Regions from separate parts of the Homo sapiens genome. Here regions 1 and 2 are each linked to region 3. Evidence: fine-mapped QTL for protein levels in blood plasma. A gene starts in region 3. Each other region holds a variant in brackets. All regions are shown on one strand. Distances are from middle to middle. Region 1 has its middle 120 kb from the start of LINC02529. Region 2 holds the start of LOC101929142 (a long non-coding RNA gene). Region 3 holds the start of FNDC1 (fibronectin type III domain containing 1).

Evidence for each region. PIP is the chance, under the fine-mapping model, that this variant and not a neighbour inherited with it causes the effect. Protein levels are from antibody-based Olink assays in UK Biobank. Linkage for the fine-mapping came from a reference panel and not from the study's own genotypes, which makes the PIPs less certain.
Region 1: its variant is fine-mapped to the plasma level of the FNDC1 protein (UK Biobank, PIP above 0.99).
Region 2: its variant is fine-mapped to the plasma level of the FNDC1 protein (UK Biobank, PIP 0.94).

The regions. Positions count from the first base shown.
Region 1 is chr6:159,504,247-159,511,242 of GRCh38, forward strand. No RefSeq gene overlaps it. Among named protein-coding and RNA genes, the nearest start is that of LINC02529, 120 kb to the left of the region's middle. The variant G/GTA (reference allele first, on the strand shown) is at 3,571.
Region 2 is chr6:159,461,680-159,468,675 of GRCh38, forward strand. LOC101929142 (a long non-coding RNA gene) reads left to right here and starts at 1,678. Exons shown (of 3, transcript XR_943178.4): 1 at 1,678-1,740; 2 at 4,668-4,832; 3 at 6,027-6,068. RefSeq lists an enhancer at 833-1,338. The variant C/G (reference allele first, on the strand shown) is at 3,652.
Region 3 is chr6:159,164,598-159,171,303 of GRCh38, forward strand. FNDC1 (fibronectin type III domain containing 1) reads left to right here and starts at 4,803. Exons shown (of 23, transcript NM_032532.3): 1 at 4,803-5,108. The coding sequence starts at 5,000. It overlaps FNDC1-AS1 (FNDC1 antisense RNA 1), which reads right to left and starts at 5,410. Exons shown (of 4, transcript NR_121668.1): 1 at 5,215-5,410; 2 at 3,936-4,164; 3 at 2,652-2,757; 4 at 1,302-1,591. RefSeq lists a silencer at 4,682-4,851 and an enhancer at 5,658-6,157.

The DNA.
Region 1 (6,996 bases), 340 kb after region 3:
GCTGTGCCAATGGGGCATTCCTCCTGGCAGAGTTCCAGACACTGTCAAACCCACGTGGAGGAAAACGGCCAAGCTGAACTATCCTGAAACTCTCCAAATCCTACCACACGGCATGCACCTGTTGTGCAGTTCTGCGAGGCGAGGTTTCCTCCCAAGCATGCAAAGGCCGTGCTGGGCCTGCTCAAAACAGCCAGATGCCCAGCTTCTGGTAAGCAGGAAAGTCGAAGGATGAGCTGGTGCTGTGGTGGTGGGAGGTTCCTGCACTCCTGGGAGCAGCCCTGGGAAGTGTCTCGTGTGTCTAAGGACTGTCCTGTAGGTGCTTGTGCTTTCACACCGTGCTGGGCCGGGTGGTTGCAGTGTGAGCACTGTCCTTCTCCGGCTGCGTGCTTGCTTGCTCTAGGCAGCACCTCACATCCTTCCAGACCATAGGAGTCTCCGTGTCAGGTGCCACACCCACCATTTTTCTTTTCTCTACTCCTCTCCCCAGTAAAAGAGGCAACTGATGTCAGCCCCAGGCGCTGCTGCTGCCACCATGTCCACCAGGTTGCCATGCTCCCTGGCTGCCAGCCTGATGCCCTGCCAAGGTTCCTGGTGCCCACCGCGGAATGGACGGGGTGTAGGCTGAGGGCAGGTCTGCATGGACACTGGGTGATACACACCAAGCTGTGGTCAGTACAGCCCAGGCCCCCACAGGGCCTGTTGTCACCAACCCAGGCTGTTTCCCCTCATCTCTCTTTCCCTAAGAGGAGTTTTTGCCCAGGAATTTCCCTGGGCCCTCAGTGAGCTTGCCTTGTTGGACTCCAGACCTAGGCAGACATCGCCTCCTGAGCAAAACAGCCCCGGCTGAAAGCCCCCACGTGGAACCCACACACAATGGTTTATGCTGGTGCCCTTGGCTGGAAGCTGCAGGGTCCAGCTTTGAGCAATGGGAACAGAACACCAGGGCACCACATCTGAGAGTGTCAGGGCAAAGACCCCTCAGCCAGATGGACTTCATGTTCCTGCCAGAGAATTCGTAGCCCGGATTATTCTCTGGAAGACAGTGTCACAGCCAAAACTGAACACCAAGCTTGTTTCCCACTGTGTCAGAGCCTGGGTGTGCTCTACCCCAGCCAAGCTCAGAGCTCTGCAAATGAGAAGCGAGGTGAGCAAATGAGTGGAGACTTCGAAGCTTTCATCCTGTAACAAAGGGCAACCGCCTCCCTGTGCCATGACGCAGGTGGCAGGAGACCCGGGATGAGTGAAGGTGCAGGATGACGGCGGGATGGGGTCTGCTTCGGGAAGTGCCGCCAAGGCAACCCCTGAGCCCTGCCTGGGTTGATGAGGCAGGCTGAGCTGCCTAGAGTCCTCTCTTAGGGGACCTCCTTGGCCCTAGGCTGAAGCAGAGGGCGCACAGCCAGAGTTCCCAGTCAGAACGGGGCCTGTTAGAGACGTTCAGGAGGGCGCCAGGCTCGTTAGCATGATTCTTTTTCCTTTAGAAAAACAGACTCTCCTGGAACAACTAGGCCAACTCCAGCTCCTGCCCCACCCACCTGAGTCTGGCCAGGCAGCCCGAGCCCAGCGCCCAGAGCTCTCCTTGACCATGACCTCATCCCCAAACCCTCCAGGCTGGGTCCCTGCCCTCCACCGCATGAGGCAGGGAAAGAAAGGAGAAGGGAAGGTCCCAGTTCAAATATCAGGGTGCCTGTCCTCTCCCCAAGACAACCTCCCTGTGCCACCCCTAGGGAGGGTCTCCCATGTCATGGACAGCCGCACAGCTCTGCTGAGCTGCCCCCCACAGCAGTGGGCCCAGCCCTGGGCCTGGGGGACATTTTCATAATACTGACGCCCAGCCATCCTGCCCTCACCTCGGGAATCCTCACCTCCAATTGGAGGGGAGGTGAAGCAGAAGGCACGGATCTTTTTAGAAGTTCCTCAGATGGCTTTTAAAAGTTCCTGCATCTTGTCATCAGGGGCCTCTGCACTCTGCGGTATAAATTATGGGGACAGGGAAGACACACCCCTGCCCTCACTGAACTCCCAGCCACTCTGGTGGTTCCTGTTCACACAACCTCACATATATGAGGCCTCCTCAGAAGGCTCTAGGGCAATGAGGAAGACAGGGCTGGGGGTCAGCCCTGGTGAAGGGGTAGAGAGTGACCCAGGCTGGGTGTGGTCTGGAACTGATGGCCAAGAAGGTGTAACCCTTGAGGTCAGGTTTACTGCAGGGGACTGTGTACCTCCCTGAGGCTTCTTTCAGGTTGGAATAGGGACCTAGAGGCCTCTGAGGAGTCAGCCTTCTGCTCCCCAGAGGAAGGCAACAGCTCTCCAGGATGTCAGGTTCCTAACCAGCCATCCACAGGTAAGTGAGGTCTCATTTTCAGTGAGGGCAACAGGGAGCCTTGGAGAATGGGGACAATGTGCCAGGAGCCGGGAAAGGCTGCAGTGTGGCATGTTCGCCCTGGCCTGCAGGCCTCAGAGTGGAGGATCACCCACTCCACCTGGCCCAGCCCTGCCTCTTGCTCCCTGCTTTCACCCCCTGCCTCCACCATCCAGGACTGGGCACTGTGGGCACTGCCAATCATAGCCATGCCTCCTTTCCACCTCAGCAGTTAGAAGTCTGTGGAGCTTAAAGTGGAAGAAGGGACTGCTGGGTGCTGCCTTTCCTTGGAACCATCTTCCTGCCCCTTCTTGTCATTATTAAAAGGTGAATCCAGGGCCGGGAGCAGTGGCTCAAGCCTGTAATCCCAGCACTTTGGGAGGCTGAGGCGGGCGGATCACGAGGTCAGGAGATCGAGACCATCCTGGCTAACACGGTGAAACCCTGTCTCTACTAAAAAATAGAAAAAATTAGCCGGGCATTGTGGTGGGCACCTGTAATCCCAGCTACTTGGGAGGCTGAAGCAGGAGAATAGTGTGAACCTGGGAAGCGGAGCAATCTGAGTCTTGGTTGTAACAACGCCTATAAAGTTCCACCTCTGGTAAGTGTTCTACTCTCTGCTTCTATGAGATCAACTTTTTTAGCCTCCACATATAAGTGAGAAGATGTGGTATTTATCTTCCTATGCCTGACTCATTTCACTTAAAGTAATGTCTCCAGGTTCATCCATTTTGCTGTGAATGACAGGATCTCATACTTTTTGTGGCTGAGTAGTATTCCACTATGTATGCACACTGCATTTTCTTTATCTATTCACCTGTAAATGGACACTAGAGGCTGGGAAAGGTAGCAGGGAGGCAGGACTAGGGAGAGATTGGTTAAATGATATAAAATTGCAGCTAGCTAGGAAGAATAAGTTCTAATATTCCATAGCACTGTAGGCTGACTATAGTTAACAATAATTTGTTTTATATATATATATATAAAACATATATGTGTATATATGCGTATATATGTATATATGCGTATATATGTATATATGTGTATATATGTATATATGTGTATATATGTATATATGTGTGTATATATACATATACACATATACGTATATATGTATACATGTATACGTATATGTGTATGTATACATGTATACGTATATGTGTATGTATACATATATGTATATATGTGTGTATATATGTATATATGTGTGT[G/GTA]TATATATATATACACATATACATATATTTGAGACAGAGTCTTGCTCTGTTGCCCAGCCTGGAGTGCAGTGGCGCGATCTCGGCTCAATGCAATCTCTGCTTCCCAGGTTCAAGTGATTCTCCCACCTCAGCCTCTCGAGTAGCTGGGATTACAGGTGTGCACCACCACACTTGGCTAATTTTTTTGTGTGTTTTTAGTAGAGATGGGGTTTCGCCATGTTGGCCAGGTTGATCTTAAACTCCTGGCCTCAAGTGATCCACCCACCTCAGCCTCTCAAACTGCTGGGATTACAGGCATGAGCCACCGTGCCCAGCCTGTTATATATCTTCAAATAGCTAGAAAAGAGGACTTTGACTATTCCCAACACAAAGAAATGATAAATGTTTGAGATGATGGATATGCTAATTATTCTATTTCATCACTATACATGTTTCAAAACATTACTATGTACTCCATAAATACAATTATTGTATCAATTTTATAAATTAAAGAATTTTTTAAATTTCACCTCATAATATTGTTTTGAAAATTAAATAAATAGGGGAGAGAAATGAACAGGTGGAGCAGCAGGGAGTTTTAGGCCAGGAAAAGTATTCTGCGTGATACTGTATTAATGCCATTGTCAAAACCCCTAGAACCATACAACACAGGGAATAAACACTCACATAAACTTGGACTTTTGTTAAAAGTAATTTTCAAGCTTGGTTCATTGTTTGCAATAAATGTAGCACACTCATGCAGGGTGTTAATCTCAAGGAAAAATGGAGGCAGGGGGTTTGGTATATGGGAGCTGTGTACTTTCCGATCAATTTTCCTGTAAATCTAAAACTGCTTTAAAAAATAAAGTCTTTTTTTTAATGACATGAGACAATATACTTAACGTATTTGCGCACTGCCAGACATGTTTGCTGCTGTAGTTACCACCCTTTGCCTGAAGCCTGGGATTTGAGTTCATTTTCTGTCATAGAACCTGGTGAAGCAGAACAGCCCCATTCAGACTTTACAGCCAACAAGGGTGTTTCCTTTGGTCCACTGTCCCCGGAGCAGCCCTCCCTTTAGATATTGCTGAAGGTATGTGTCTGCCGCAGCCCCTGTGTCAGTCTGGGTTCTCCAGAGAAACAGAACCAATAAGATATTTATGTTAAGAGATTTATTTTAGGAAATTGGCTCCCATGATTGCTGCAGCTGGCAAGTCTGAAACCTTAGGGCCGGCCAGCAGCTGGAAACTCAGGTAAGAGCTGATGTCACAAACTTGAGTCTGAAGTTTCTGGGGCAGTCTGGCAGGCTGGAAACACAGGCAGAATTCCTATGTTTCAGTCTTGAGCCAAAATTCCTCCTTCCCTGGAAATCTCAGTTTTTGCTCTTACGCCCTTCAACTGATCAAATGAGGCCCACCCACATGGTGGAGGGTCATCTCCTTTGCTTAAAGTCAACTTATTATACATGTTAATCACATCTACAAAAATGCTTTTACTGCAACACCTAGACTAAGGACTAGGGTTTGACCAAACAACTGGGCACCACAGTCTAGCCAAGTTGATACATACAATTTAACTATCACAACTGCTTTCCTAAACAAACAAGAAGATGGAAAAGGATACGTTTGGAAAATGTTTGCCTTTCAAATGTTCTTAAAGAGATGCACATCAGTGCATTCCCATCTGACTGCCAGGCTAGTCGGGGAGTGGGGTATTCTCTTGTACCCCTCCTACATGCCTCTGAAAAAAAGAACTTCTGCCCCTTAGGTGGCCTGCAACATCATACCACACATGCTTGGGGATCTGGGAGCAGAGGACAGAGCTCCTTGGTTTAAGAAGCTGCTCATTTGATGCAGAAATCCACTTGCCTGTATTCATTATTTTGGACACTCCTTGCAGCAACCAATCCAAGCTCCGTCTTCTTCCGTCAGTTGACTTAATACCAGAACTTCTTCCCAAACAGACTGAGAAGCTAAGTGCCCTTGCTTTTGAGTTGGAGCGAGCAAGGGCCAATCCTCATATCATAGGGCCAGAAGCCACAATACAAGGACATCATCATTTCCAATGAGCACTTGGTCCTGGAATTCTCAGCACTAATCAAGTGGAACAAAGAAGGCCCCTTCCCTTTCAGTGCCTCCATGAGTGGAGACTTATCTCTACAAAGTCCAAAGTATGGAGAAATAAGCGTAGGTCATTTTATTATGACATTCTTTGTACTGTGCCCTTTTGGAAGGATGAGTGATTAGGAGTTGTTAGAACTTGGCCTGACAGGTAGGTTGGATTAAGGGAGCCATCACTGTCCAAAAGTTTTGAGGACACTCAGCCAAGAAGGGACATTTTATCCTTAGGGCCACCCTCAGGTAGGCGTTGGGATGAAGAAATAAGGGAGTTTAGAAAGAGATTTTTCCCAGGGGTTCAGAACTCATCGGGGTTCTGCTACTAACTGAGGCTGCCCACTCAACCTCAGGCAGCCAAAGTCCCTTTCCACAACATGGCAGCTCACCCTGCAGAGGAAGGCTCGTCCGGGTGGCCCCCGAGGCCCCTCTATCAGAGGGCGGCTCTTTGAAGATGAATCTGTCTCCCTGGCTGGGTCCTCCACTTAGGACTCCTGACCTACTGGGGGGTGGGGGGGTCCCCCGTGGTAAGTGCTCAGCCTGCTGTGAATGCAAATCCCCACCCCTACACTGACATCTCAGAAGAGGCAAGAAACTCGGGACAGAAAAGCCCACATTGCTTGTGCTTCAAAGATTTGAAAAAGGGGGCTTGTGGGCCAGGTTGGCCAGAAAGGTTGACCTTCCTGAGCCCATTTCCTCACCTCCCTGTCGACCTCACCATGATGTCCGGAGGATCAGATGATAAAAACTGCACAGGAAGCCATGTTGGGGAGACTAAATAGCGTGCAGGGGAGAAACGTGAAACTCTAAATGCAAGCAGTGCAGCAAGCAGGGTATTACTCTCTTAACTAGACAAGGTAGGTTCTAGGGCAGCTGGATAATTTGTTCCCTAAAAATTAATTAATTAATTAATTAATTAAATCCAGACAATTACCTGAGAACACAAAAGTGATCTGCGCTGATGGTTCCCGTGTTATCTCACATATTCTAAGTGTCATTGACAGGGGTCTCAGACATGGGTCTGACTGGCTCCTCCCAGCTCCTCCTCTGTGGGCACTATTTTGTAAGTTCCTTTCCTCTGTTAAACCAGTTACCTCTCTGCTAGCTGCTTTTTCTGAAGATGTGTCTGAATACTGCTATCTCCACTCTGGCATTCTTTGTATTTGAAAGTTCATAGATGTTTCCTGTCTTTTAAGAGGAGTTTCAGATGGAAAGGAGGATGAGTTCATGGACCCCACCTGTCAGATTTAATTAAATATCACATTGGCATTTATAAGAGATTTCTGATTCCATGGTGTAGGTTTAATCATTCTTTGAATTTTGGGGGGATTTC
Region 2 (6,996 bases), 300 kb after region 3:
CAAATCCTGACAATGATTATCAAAATCTAGAACCCCAAGTATAAAAGCTATCTCTCAGTAAGCAGTATTCTGGGATTTCAAATACAAGGTCCATAGATCCTCAAGGGATCCTTGCATGGAATTCAGTGGTCTGTGGACCCTCTAAAATTGTATACAAACTTTTGTGGCTATATGAATATCCACACAGTCTTTGAAATTCAAAATTAGGTACCACATTTTAATACCTTATCAAAATTTTTGATACCAAAACCTAATTTACAACATATTAAATTTTCTCTTGTGGGGGTGCTGTTATCAAGACACAATACCCTAGCTAAATAAACATTTAGTTTGGTTAACCACACAGAGGACATAATAAATTAATTTCCCAATTGCTATTCCATGCTGTTGACAAAATTATCAGTTTGGTCTTTAACTCTCTCTCTCTCTCTCTATCAGTTAGCCTTGTGCAAAACACTATTTTGCAAAGCAGATATTTTTAACCACACTTTGCAGATGTGAAACCTGAGACTCAGAGAGGTAGTAAGTTATTGGGGCCCTCCGCTGGTAAATAGAGGGACCAAGATCCTAAAACCAGCCTATTGGGTCCTGAAGCCTGTGTCTCTTCAGTGAGGCAAACCACTATCTGTTGAAATTTATAATTTGTTTCCTGAAATGAAGAATTTCAGTCCAAGATTTTCCTTTAGTGGTGGGATGGTTAAACAAGTATATTTCACACCAGCAATTACATTCGTGAAATATTTTTAAATATTGGTGGTTCTGACATGGTAAAAGTCGTTATAATGTATTTTTTCTAATTTTAGCTCTGAACAATCAATTAATGGCAGCCTAAAATGCGGCTGTAACCCAGTTTAGAACTTTCCAAGAATCCTCCCATTGGAGCCAGATGAAGCAGCCTAATGTAGCAAATGAGAACTTCTGAGTCCAGAGCGGGGCAAGCTCCAATCTGCCAATAGCCTTGCCAAGAGAGCTGGAGGAAGTGGGGGAGTCACGTAACCGCCTACCTCCTCTTTCCCAAAACAGGAGCCACATACCAACCTCTCAGCAGGGTGGGTTGGGGCCACAAGACTTAGGGCCTACCTCTCCTCGGTGGCCAATGACATTTAAAGAAAACAGTTGACTGCATCTGTGAAGATGTCATAACGTGGAGCTTCCCTGGGAGAAAATAATTTGGGAAGGGAGGGAGACATTACTGATATCTTTAAAACACAGAGTGTTCAAAATGAGAGAACCACGTGCTTCTCTCCATACCACTGGGGTGGTTTTGGTGCCCGTCTTTGGTGTGCATTGCGGGTCTTTGTGGGGCCTGTGGTAACAACTCATGATTCATCAACTACAAGTTACCATCACAATTTCCAAGTCATTGGGAAGTATTTCATCCCCCAGAGCGGCAATTTTCTCCATCAGCAAGAGAATCAAAAGGAAGTGGGAACATCTGGCTCGATATGAAAGCCTGAGAGTGCCCCGACATACACAGGCTACGGAGAAGTCGGCCCCTTGCAGATATTGGAAAGCAAAGCTCCGTCTACCTTCGCCAGCCACAGTTTCCAGCATCGCTTCCAAAAATCAATCTTGCATATTTGCTGGCGGACCCACTTCTAAGTGATTGGATTCTAGCACACTCCAATCAAGCATCAGCTTTGGTTCTTATGACGCAGTCACTAACATCACACACGACCAAAACAGCAGGGCGCTCTCTCAAGTCTCCTCTTACTGTGCCATCGTGGGGAACAGTCTCATGTGAGTGCAGGCGTGGGCCGGCTTCCCTTAGTTGGGAAGGGAGGGAGATATTATTCATATCCTCTCCACAGTGCACTCGCTTCTTCATGCTCATGTAGAAACACAGACATGTGCCTGTGGCTAGAACTCTTATCCAGGTTGATTTAACCTAGAGAAATGACGCTTTAATGTCACCATCAAAAAGCTAACCAATAGTTCTTAATGGAGGGATTACTGCCCCCTAGAGAGCATTTTGGAAATGTGTAGGGGCTTTATTTTACTTTATTTATGTATTTATTTGAGAGGGAGTTTTGCTCTTTCGCCCAGGCTGGAGTGCAGTGGCACGATCTCGACTCACTGCAACCTCCGCCTTACGGTTTCAAGTGATTCTCCTGCCTCAGTCTCCCGAGTAGCTGGCATTACAGGCTTCCACCACCACGCCTGGCTACTTTTTGTATTTTTAGTAGAGACAGGGCTTCACCATGTTGGCCAGGCTGGTCTCGAACTCCTGACCTCGTGATCCACCCACTTGGGCCTCCCAAAGTGCTGGGATTACAGGCGTGAGCCACCGCGCCTGGCCCTGTTTTACTTTATTGATAGTCATGAAGATGGGGTGTGACCTCATTTAGTGGGTGGAGGCCTGGAATACTAGAGGGCCCACAATGCAGAAGACGATCTTGTGGAACTTTTCAATGTCCCACCAGACAGTTATGCAGGTGACAAACTTGTTTATAATTTTCTGAGCCTGGAACCCAACTCCACTTTTACATATAACTACAAATTATTTACAGTTAGGATGGAGAATCACTCTTCTAGCACATAATTAGGGGTTCTAGGAATGTCTGGTGTCAGCCAGGAAAGGGTCCAAGCTCTGAAACGAAATCATCAGGCTTTGAAATTGGGCTCTTCCATTTACCAATCTGTGCCTCAGTTTCCTCCTCTGTCAAATGGGGCTCACAACAGCACCTGCTTCATGAGATGTGAGAATTAAATTAATGCATATTAAGCCCTTAGAACAGTGCCAGTTGTTTCTCACCTTGTGACAACGAAAGAAATATTAGAAAAATATTCAGTATAATCCCATTCCTCTGAAACAGCATCCAAATGTCACCTGTTAGTAACATCTCTAAGATGAGAGAATGTTCTAATTTAACACTGCTATTTTCCTTCAAGGTGGCAAACAACAATCATTCACATTTTTACATCTTTTAGTAGAGTTCTTGATTTAGTAAAAATCAGACTTAGGTCAAGTTGGACATTACTGAACTGCTGGCCACACTGCAAGCCCAGGTTAGAGCTGGAGTCAGTCCCAGAGAGACTGGAAGGAGAAAGTATCCCACACTCATTTTAAAGTAAATAAAAAGATTCTCAAGTATATTTCTCCATCTTTCAATATTTTGAGCATTTTCAGACACTTAGAGAGTGTGAGCAAAAATATTTAATCTTTAAGTTAACAGAGGGGCTTAAAAACAATAAGATACTGCAGCAATCTGAGGACTGAGGGGCTTCAGGATGACTTTAAGAAGAGACTTCTGCAGAGCTCAGATGCTCGATACGCAAAGGAAATCTGTCGGAGCGGCGTCCAGCTAGCTCCGTGCGTGCACAGACACTTGAGCATTATTTTCCTGGCACTCAGCAATTCATTCCCCAGACCTGAGAACATCATCTAAATCTTAATTGACGCCATAGCTACACTTGACTGGGAGAGGAAGACGAGTCCAGGCTCCATATGTATGTAAATCACATATTATAATTGGATCTGTAATTCTCATTCCCTTATTCACTTTTTCTAATTTAATTCACAATAATATATAGATATAAGGTATAGGTTATTGTAAATTAAATTAGATATATAATATGTGTGTTTAGATACAGAGAGACAGAGACAGTGTGTACCATTTTATAATATGAGAGCTCTGCATCTTCTAAGAC[C/G]TGAGGAAGGTCATCCCAGCTTTCTGTCAGGAAAGGAAACAGCACTTCTCAAAAAATAGAAAGGTAACATGTTCACCTAGTGCTCCAGCACCTCATCCATTCTGGGGATGCTGTAGCTGCCATTTTTTTTTTTATAATTGACTTCCCCCTATACTCAGTTACTTCTAGAATGGGACTCAGCAAACCTTTCCTTAGAAAGAGAGAAATAGTAAATATTTTAGGCTTTGTGGACTGTCTCTGTGTCTCTGTTTTCTTCCCTTTTTTTTTTTTTGAGACAGAGTCTCACTCTGTCGCCCAGGTTGGAGTGCAGTGGTGCGATCTCCGCTCACTGCAAGCTCCACCTCGTGGGTTCACGCTATTTTCCTGCCTCAGCCTCCCGGGTAGCTGGGACTACAGGCACCCGTCACCATGCCTGGCTAATTTTTTTTTTTTTTTGTATTTTTAGTAGAGACGGGGTTTCACCATCTTAGTCAGGATGGCTCAATCTCCTGACTTCGTGATCCGCCCGCCTCGGCCACCCAAAGTGCTGGAATTACAGGTGTGAGCCAGCCACCGTGCCTGGCCTTTTTTTTTTTTTTGGCAGAGTCTTGCTCTGTCACCCAGGCTGGAGTGCAGTGGCATGATCTCGGCTCACTGCAACCTCTGCCTCCTGGGTTCAAGTGATTCTCCTGCCTCAGCCTCCTGAGTAGCTGGGATTACAGGTACACACCACCACACCCTGCTAAGTTTTGTATTTTTAGTGGAGACTGTGTTTCACCTTGTTGGCCAGGGTGGTCTTGAACTCCTGACCACAAATAATCTGCCCGCCTTGGCCTCCCAAAATGCTGGGAATACAAGCGTGAGCCACTGTGCCCGGCTTCTTCTTCTTCTTCTTTTCTTACAACCATTAAATTTTAAAAAATCATTTCTGCTAGATGTAGCTTGTGACATAGTTTACCAACCCCGGCTTTAGAATGGGCCTAATAGTATTGCCCAGGATGGATTCAGCTCACGTGAAGGCTTGCATTCTTTGGCAGAGCATGATATGGAGCTGGAGAGGAGGGGAGAGGAGAACAGAAGGCAAGGTGGGAAAGGACACCTGGCAGAGACAACATCTGGATCCTGAACCTGGAGGAGAAATCCACTTATATCTCACTTTAGATTTGCCAGCTGCTTTTATTTTTATTTGGACTTACAGAAAGGTGAGGCTGGGTGTGGTGTCTCATGCCTGTAATCCCAGCACTTTGGGAGGCCGAGGCAGGTGGATCACGAGGTCAGGAGATGGAGACCATCCTGGCCTACATGGTGAAACCCCATCTCTACTAAAACACAAAAAAAATTAGCTGGGAGTGGTGGTGTGCGCCTGTAGTCCCAGCTACTCGGGAGGCTGAGGCAGGGGAATCACTTGAACTGGGAGGCAGAGATTGCAGTGAGCTAAGATCACGCCACTACACTACAGCCTGGGCAACAGTGAGACTCCGTCTCAAAAAAAAAAAAAAAAAAAAAGAAAGAAAGAAAGGAAGGAAGAAAGAAAGAAAGAAGGAAAGAAAGAAAAAGAAAGAAAGAAAGAAACAAACAAACAAAAAGAAAGGTAAGAGGCAAGAGGATTGGGAAAGAATTCTCCATGTATAGTGACCAGCCTTGAAAAACAGAATTAATACCTGCTGTTGGAGAAAAGGGCAGGCAAACTTACTGCCCATCATGAAAGATTTGGGTTCTCTGAGCTCAGGGATCTCCTCCTATAATGCAAGTCACTATGTGAATAAGTGTCATCTGGCCTTCTTCACACGCCCTATGGAAATTGGGGCTCAGGACAGATATGAACAACTGCTGATACTCTGCCTACTGCTATTGCTGTGAGTATTAAAGTCTTATGTTTCTGACCCAGGCATCTCATGACTGTCTACGCCTGTGCCTTGAACAGGAAGAATCTACAGAGAAAGGAACTAGGAATCAAGGAAGCATCCCCCAAAACATTCTGTGCCATCTTCAGATTCTCTTATGTTAATGAAACAATTTTATATAATTCTCAGGTTTTCCTCTTCAAAAGATTCAGAAGGCTGTGAGACATTTGAGAGCAATGACTATATTTTGTTTACCTTTGTGTCTGGCTTGGAATCTAAAACAATACCTAGCATAATATGGATATTTAGTAAAGAAAGAGAGGAAAGAAGGAAGGAAAAAAGGAAGGAAGGAAAGGGGGAGGGGAGGAAGGAGGAAGGATACGGAGAGCGAGGGGGAAGAAAGGAAAGAGGAAGTGCTCACTTATGTAAATACTGTTATAAGAATTTTCTATGACTATTCAATTTTTCAAAACACAGAGAAAAATCAGATATTTATAGCTCTGCCACTTTAAAGCATCAGATGAATTTATCTATGTCTTTCTTTACCCACAGGTTGAGAAGAAAATACGGGAGTGAACTGTAGCAATAAACGGTTTGTGGGTAATTTTGGTACTTTAATGTGGCTTCTAAAATGTGTACTACATGACTTAGGAAGGAATATTTAAGGAGCCCAGCTGCACTAACGTGGGTTGCTATTGTGTTATTACTAAAATAGCTGAGAGAGACTCTCTGTGCAGTCACCCTAAGTGAGTTATTTTGAGTGAGTTGCTATGGTGGTATGACCTGCATGTATGACTAAACATACAAAAAAGCCAAAAGGCCAGAAATGAAGTGTCAGCTATGAAGATGCTAGTGATAAAAGCCTACCCCAAAGCAATGACAGATACTTTGAAAATACTTTGAGGGAATAAAGCACTCTTAGGGAACACAGGGTTTGAAGTAGGACTGTGTTGTTATTATTGAGTTATTTTCCAATAATTTTCGAGAGTCTGCCACAGCTTTGAGGCCAGTCTTTTATATCATTGCCCAGGCAGGGGCTCCATAGCTCAGGGGTTAGAGCACTGCTCTTGTAGTATCATTGCCCTACACAAGTGAATTTGGGTAAAAAGGAAAACAGAAGGAACTTTAACAGGCAAGTATGGAGACTGAAGTTCCACAGTAGCCCCTAGCACCAAATAAAAGTACAACAGGTCTCAATCATCACTTCCAGGCATTGAGAGAAGAAGTGCGATTTTTGAGTCTTGACTTTTGGAATCTGCAAGAGTAAGTAAATGGCTCTCTGTGTCTGTCTGGTGCCTAGGGCCAGCTCTCTCCTCTGACACTGTCCTCATTAGCATGCTAGGTGAGCATGACAACTCCGCTAGTCAGATATCACTACATCCTCAACTTCACAGAGGTGGTCTCTCATCTACCATATTTTCTGAACACCAATTCACAGTGCAGTACTGGGCAAGCTACATAAAAATTTCCTGCGAAGTTTGTAACATTTTTTTAAAGCTAAAAATTAGAGATTCTGATTCTG
Region 3 (6,706 bases):
AATCTGTGAGTTTTTTAATTTAATCATGCCAACCATGCATATGTGAGGCTGGTGTCTGACACCTTAATCCTTTATGTTTCACTAATTCCCAGTAGATTTGTACAATAGAAGAGAATTGCCTTGGCACTGCCTTGCAGTGGAAACATGTTAGAACTTCTGTGCAGAGGAAGTGTGTTTTGGGCAATGATAGATTCATGGCAGGGTGTTTTTTAAGAAGCACCATTTCTTGTCTGCATCTTTGAAACTCTAAGAACATGAGTGATATAACATTGAGGTCTCATGTAGTTGTTTGCTAAGAGGGATTGGTCACTATCTGGATGATAAGGAAGTGTCTCCGATAAATCTGCAGTGGACACGGGGACATGGCGTGTGCAAAACAGACTTTTATTTGTCCTGTCTCCCCTGATCCTCATAGTTTTAATGAAAATGGGAGAGAGGGAAGGACCTTCTGAGAGTCACGTGTGGTGGAGAGAGATGTGTACTTGGGGTCAGAGGCTCAGACTGGACTCCCAGGCGCACCAGTTAAAGGGCCAAGCACATGCCACACGCCTTCTTGGAGCCTTGATTTTCTCCTGTAAAATCAGAATAGTGCCCCTAAAGTTGTTGTGAGAATCGGAACGAAATGAGTACTGTTCAAGAAAAGAAGTAAAGCATTATTTTATTATTTTATTTTATTGCCAGCTAGAAGCTATTTCTATCACCCTTCTCCCAGGTCAAGGCGAAACTGAGATGGCAGTGTCGACTTGCCTGCTTCTATTTTCTTTTCCCTTTTCCCTCTGTTCATAGAATCCTGGGGACTGTTGTGTTCCTCCAGATCTGCTGTGTCCGATTTATTGAGCTCCCCACAATCACAGCAAGTGCTGTAGGAGCACACTCTCTTTTGTTCTCCTTCTATGTAGTCTTTTAAAAATATCACTATTGTGTAATGGGTATTGTGTAGTGTCCTGCGGCGATCACAATATGCAGATATATTCAAATGTGGTGCTTAAAAAGGAATTAAAGAGCCACATGAGCCAAATTGAAGACTGAACAAGATTAAATGTCAGATGAATAATATGAGACACGCACTTTCAACGCTCTACTTGAGTCTGTACTGGAAGGTCATTTGAACTTGCTTCCCATTTATCCATATGAAACACGAGAATAGCAATTTAATTTACCCTATCACATAGGAATGCCACGACAATGTGTATGAGGAGTGCTGAACTCCTTGGATGTATAGTTATTTTAAAAATAACTAGAACAGGAAATAGTGTATATGAACACAAGCTGATCTGTAAAGCCAGAAAAGACCACAGAACTAAGGCAGACTAATAAGGCATTGATTTTAATGACTGGCCATCCATCCAGCCCCAGAGCAACCTCCACTCTGTTTGGTTTTGATGAACAAAATAGAAGCAACAATCAAGACATCAGGAAATTACATGAAAAAACATTTAAATCTTAAAATCTTTCACAGGACAACAGTATTGATATTGGACTCAAAACTGACAAGAAGGAAGAAAACTTCCGTGTGCTCATATTTTTGAGATGACCACGTTGAGAACAGATGACTGACTCCGAGTTCCATTTTCTTTAAGATATTTTGAGCCTAAAGGTAATAATACCTTTTGATTAAAACACACACTCTCATATTTGTAATGAAATCAGAATCAGAACTCATAAGTGTCAGTAATTTCATTTAATATCAAACAGCCCATGGTTGAGGGTTCTGAAACTCTAAAATTGGAAGTAATTTTGCATTGTGCTTCACTCTGAAATGTACCCCTAAGAAAGTTGCTCTAATAAGTATTCTGGGGAGGAAGGTAAGTGCACATGCATCTCCTGAGGATGCAGGGAAGGAAACTGATGTCTGTTGAGCTTTCACTGTGTGCATATAGAGATTATGGCATATGATTAGTTCATTACAATGAAACTAAAGAGTGACATCCTGAAATTACAGAAGTCACAATGGAGAGTTAACCAGCAGCATGAGAATAGTGTGACTCGGTATATTGCAAATCCTCTTTTTCTCCACATCCAATGAGTCAGAAAATCTCCCAAACCATACCTTTAAGATGCATCCAGAACCTCACTGGTTCTCGTGCCCCACTGCTGTCCATCATGTCCAAGCACCGTCTTGCCTCACTGGGATTGTAAGAGCCTGCTTACCCGTGTCTCCTCTGATCAGAATTCTCCAGTGTTGCCCTTCACCTCTCAGATTGAAAGCCTAAACCCTTCCTGCAGCCTGTAAAGTCCTCAGTGCTGCCTCCCCTTCTCTGCTTTTAACTTAACTCCTGCTATTCATCTGCTTTCAGTCACTGCTAATCCCCGGGGTCTACAGCAGTGCTGGGGACAGAGTAGATCACAATAAGTATTTGCTGAATGAATGAATGAATGGCAATTAACCTCAGCATTTCCTGGATATTACTGTGTTTGGTTCTGTGATGGCCTCTTTTGGGTGACAGATGAGCAATAAAGATAAGTCTTGGTTCTTGTCCTCTTAAGAACAGGGGGGAGTGCACTAGTCAAGACTCATTGGTTATAGAAAATAGAAATCTCATTCCAAGTTAGCAAAAGGGAATGTGCTGTCCCCAGAACCAGCGTTCAGAAAGCGCAGGGGTGAGGTGGAGCCCGGGACTCTTGCATCTGCCCGGCTCTTTTCTACCCACCTGGCCGCTCTCCATGCGTGGCTTCCTTCTCTCCAGCTGGTGTCCCTGGAGGCTGCAGCCAGAGCCACAGGCCCATCCTGGCTACTGCACTGGTGTTCGGTGGCCGCTGTAAGAAGTAATTACAAACGGGGTGGGTGGCTTAAACAACAGAAATCTGCTCTCTCAGTCTTGGAGGCCAGAAGTCTGAAATCAGTTCCACTGGCCTGAAGTCCAGCACAGGCTCTGGAGGAGCCTCTTCCAGCCTCTGGTGAGGGCTGCCAGCATCCCTGGGCTGTGGGTGCATCGTTCCCATGGCTGCCTCCGTCCTCACCTGGATTTCTCTTGTGTGCGTCAATCTCCCTCTCCTCTGTTTTATAAGTTACATACATGACTGCATTAGGGCCCACCCAGATAATCCACGATAATCTCTCTGTCTCAGCATGCTTAATTGCTTTTTAATAAACCATGTAAGGTGACATTCACAGGGTCAGGGACTAGGACAGGAATGTCTTTTTGGGGAGGAAGGCTGTGTTTCAGCCTGCCATGGCTACCATCCTTCCAAATCCACGAATGATGGGAGAAAGAGACCTTTCCACCAGCCCGTGTTAGAAGAGTCCCAACTCTGAGTGACCCTGTCTAGGCCACTGCAGAGCCCTGAGCCAGTGGGGAAGTGGGGCTTTGGGAAGGAGTGGGAGTAAGGAGGGGGCCTGTCACTTGGTTGGAGTTGGGGAGGGAGCTACCATTCCCCCAAAATAGGCAGAGCCGGGTGGCTGCTGGTGAGACAGAAACCACACAGCTCCATTAAATGGCATGTGGGGAAACATGATAACATAAGGGAGTAATGCAGGAAAGTGTGTTTGGGCTGGGCGTGGTGGCTCACGCCTGTAATCCCAGCACTTTGGGAGGCCAAGGTGGGCGGATTGCTTGAGCTCAGGAGTTGGAGACCAGCCTGGGCAACGTGGGGAAACCCTGTCTCTACAAAACATACAAAAATGAGCTGGGCATGGTGGCTGAAACCTGTAGTCCCAGCCACTTAGGAGGCTGAGGCAGGAGAATGGCTTGAGCCTGGGATATGGTGGTTGCAGTGAGCCAAGACTGCACCACTGCACTCCAGCCTGGGCGGCAGAGGCAGAGGGAGACCCTGTCTCAAAACAAAAAGAAAAAGAAAAACAAACAAACAAAAACCTTTGCTGGGAAGCAGGAGAGTTTCCTGGAAAGGAAGGCGGTAGGTTTACACCTTTCCTGGGTGCTCAAATTCAAAGAGATACTGTATTTCTGGTTTTCATCTCTTTGCAATTCATTTACCTTTTTTTTTTCCTCTCTGCAGAACACAAATCCGGTCAAGTTTTGGGTTGTCATGAGGGAGAACTGACATAGCGCTGGGCGGTGAGTTCAGCCAGGTTATCTCTGCGAGGACACCGGTCGGCGGCGGACAGCAGCACGCGGCGTCCAGGACCCGGCCTTCCTAGAGCTTAGGTCACTGTAGCCTCCAGGGGCGCTCCGAGTCCATCTGGAGGGCCGCGAGGCTTCCAGGCTGGAAGGAGGAATAGGGAGAAGGAGGAATAGGGAGACCTGGGGCAGTGTTACAATTACAGAAAAGGGAGAGGCGAGGTCCGCTGAGTCCTTGGCCTGGGCAACAAGGCACACTGAAAACTGGGTTCCTTTTCGACCCGCATCGTGCGCGCCCTAGAAATGACAGCCAGACGGAGCAGGGTCTAAGGACGCTGAAAACCCCTGACGTGGGCGCGCCGGGTGCGGGTAGGGACGTGGAAGGACTGGGCTAGCCACAGGAACTACAGCGCTGCGGACCGGGTGAGGGGTCCCGGCCCGAGTCCCCACTTGGGGCGCAGAGGTGTTTCTGTAAGGGGACAAAGGGCACTCCTCGGCGCGATGGGCGACTTCCCCAGCCAGAAAATGAGAGGGTTAGACGAGGGGAGGAACTTCCTCAGCCACTTGGCCCGGCACAGCGACCGCCCCAAGTTCAGAACCGCTAAGTCAGTCCGGGGCGCTCCGGCCCCTTCGTCCCGCGCCCCGCCCGCCTCCAGCCCGGGCCCCGCCGCCCCCGTCGCCCCTGTCGCCCGGGTCGCCCCCGCCGGCCCTGGCCCCGGCCCCGCACACCGGCAGGGGGCGCCCGAGCGCAGCTAAAAGGCTCGGCGGGAGGTCGGCGGCCTCAGTGGCGGAGCGCGGCTGCCGGTGTGCGGCCGGGAGCGATCGCCGCGGGGCAGGGGCGCGGCGGGCACCGCGCAGAGCGCGCAGAACAGACGGACGGCGGCGGGGACCCGACGGCGGCGCCTCGGCACTCCCCAGACTCCGGCCAGCGCCCCCCTGCCAGCCGCAAGCACCCAGCCCCGGCCCACCCCGGGCTCTCGATGGCCCCCGAGGCCGGGGCGACCCTGCGCGCGCCGCGCCGGCTGTCCTGGGCGGCGCTGCTGCTCTTGGCCGCGCTGCTCCCCGTCGCCTCCTCGGCGGCGGCCTCAGGTACGCGCCGCGCCCGGGCCCCCGGCGCTCCTCAGCTCCCCGCGCACCCTCCTGCGCTCGGGCCCCGTCGTCCCGCTCAGTGCTGGCTACGGGTCGTGTCACTAGCCTGTGCGTCCTCGTCACTCGCGGGTCGGGGCACTTGGCGCCCTGTGTGGGTGGCGGGAGCGGGGACGCCTCGGTGCCCGGGGACCGCAGCGCGCTGGCGTTTAACTTTGCCGTCGCCCGCCTTGGAGTCGGGAGGCTCCAGCCGTCTAAGTGTCCCGGGAGATTCAGGCACAGCGGGGAAAAAAGGAAAAGAAAGGCGACTTTCAGCGTGCGGACTGGGGTAATGCCTTTCTTTGCCCAGAATTTCTCGGGAGCGTAGGTGGTCATCCTACTTTCTCCGCGTTCACCTCTCGCGAGGCAGGATGACGGGCGCACTCGGGAGACCGGAGGGAGGCAGAGCAGGGCTGTTCTAGAAGGTCGTGGGGGAAAGGCTGCGAGCTGCCGCAGGGCGTCGGGTGCCTCTGCGCTCCAGAGGAGAAGCGCTCCAGTGCCAGCTCGGCTCCAGGCGGCAGGAGGCCCGCGCGCCCGGGGGGAACGTTCAAGCTGGGAGAAAATGTTTGTCTTGAGAGGAGGGAGAGGGAAATGAGAAAGCTGATTCCAGAGAAACTCGCCCTTCCCCAATGGCTGAGGCTGCAGCCAGGATGGATGCTTCCTTTGAGAGCAATGCTTTTCAGAAAATGCTAGCGCGCTCCTGTCAGATTTCTTGCAAGCTTCCTGCAGAGAGAGACAAGTTTGTGGCGAGGTTTTCATTCCTAAGCCTTTGGCGGCCCTTGTTACCACCTCCTTTGCAGGCATTTTTACACTTGAAACTGGCTTTTAGGTTATTGGTTTGTAGAAATCCAAGAAGCAGACAATGATCGTCAGATACTATTCCAACGAGGGTACCAGTTTTATGATGCTATTTAGTGTATATATTGTTCTCTTACTTCAGGGGTAAAGGAAGAAAAGTTGGGGATCACATTACTTTGTGACTTTTTGGTAGATACATCATCCCAATGCTTGGCTCAGGTTTATGCGAGGTATTCTGATGCCAATGCCACTTTCTCATAAAAGGCAGTGCCTGCCGTAGGGTCTTTTTCTTCCCATTAGTGAACTCTAGGAAAGTATTCACTGAATACTTTGCACAGTACTTGAGAGGAATAAAACTAAATAAAGTCTTCCAACTTCCCCACCTACAACTCCTGGCTTTTGTTTTTCTAAGTGAAAATTTTCAGAGTGCTGGAAGAGTTTTTGTTTCTGAAAATGATCTGAAACTGGAACCAGTGCTGCCCTGGCTTTGTGGCGATTCCAGCCTTCTGCTTTTCCGATTCCTCTGCCACCTGCCCGTGGGTTGCATGTGAGTGGGTCCGAGCGGGGTTGTTTGTGAGAGCTCCTGGAATCCCACCGCGATCTGCACTCTTGCTTTTTCGCCTTCTGCTCTGTGAATCACTGTGCTGAGGAATGCTGGGGCTGGACAGCTTCCCAGCCCTTCTCTCTACTGTGTTGACGTGGGATCTACAGTCAAATGATGACCAGACTAGAGGTGGACAAAGGAGGACAGGCACATTTCAGAA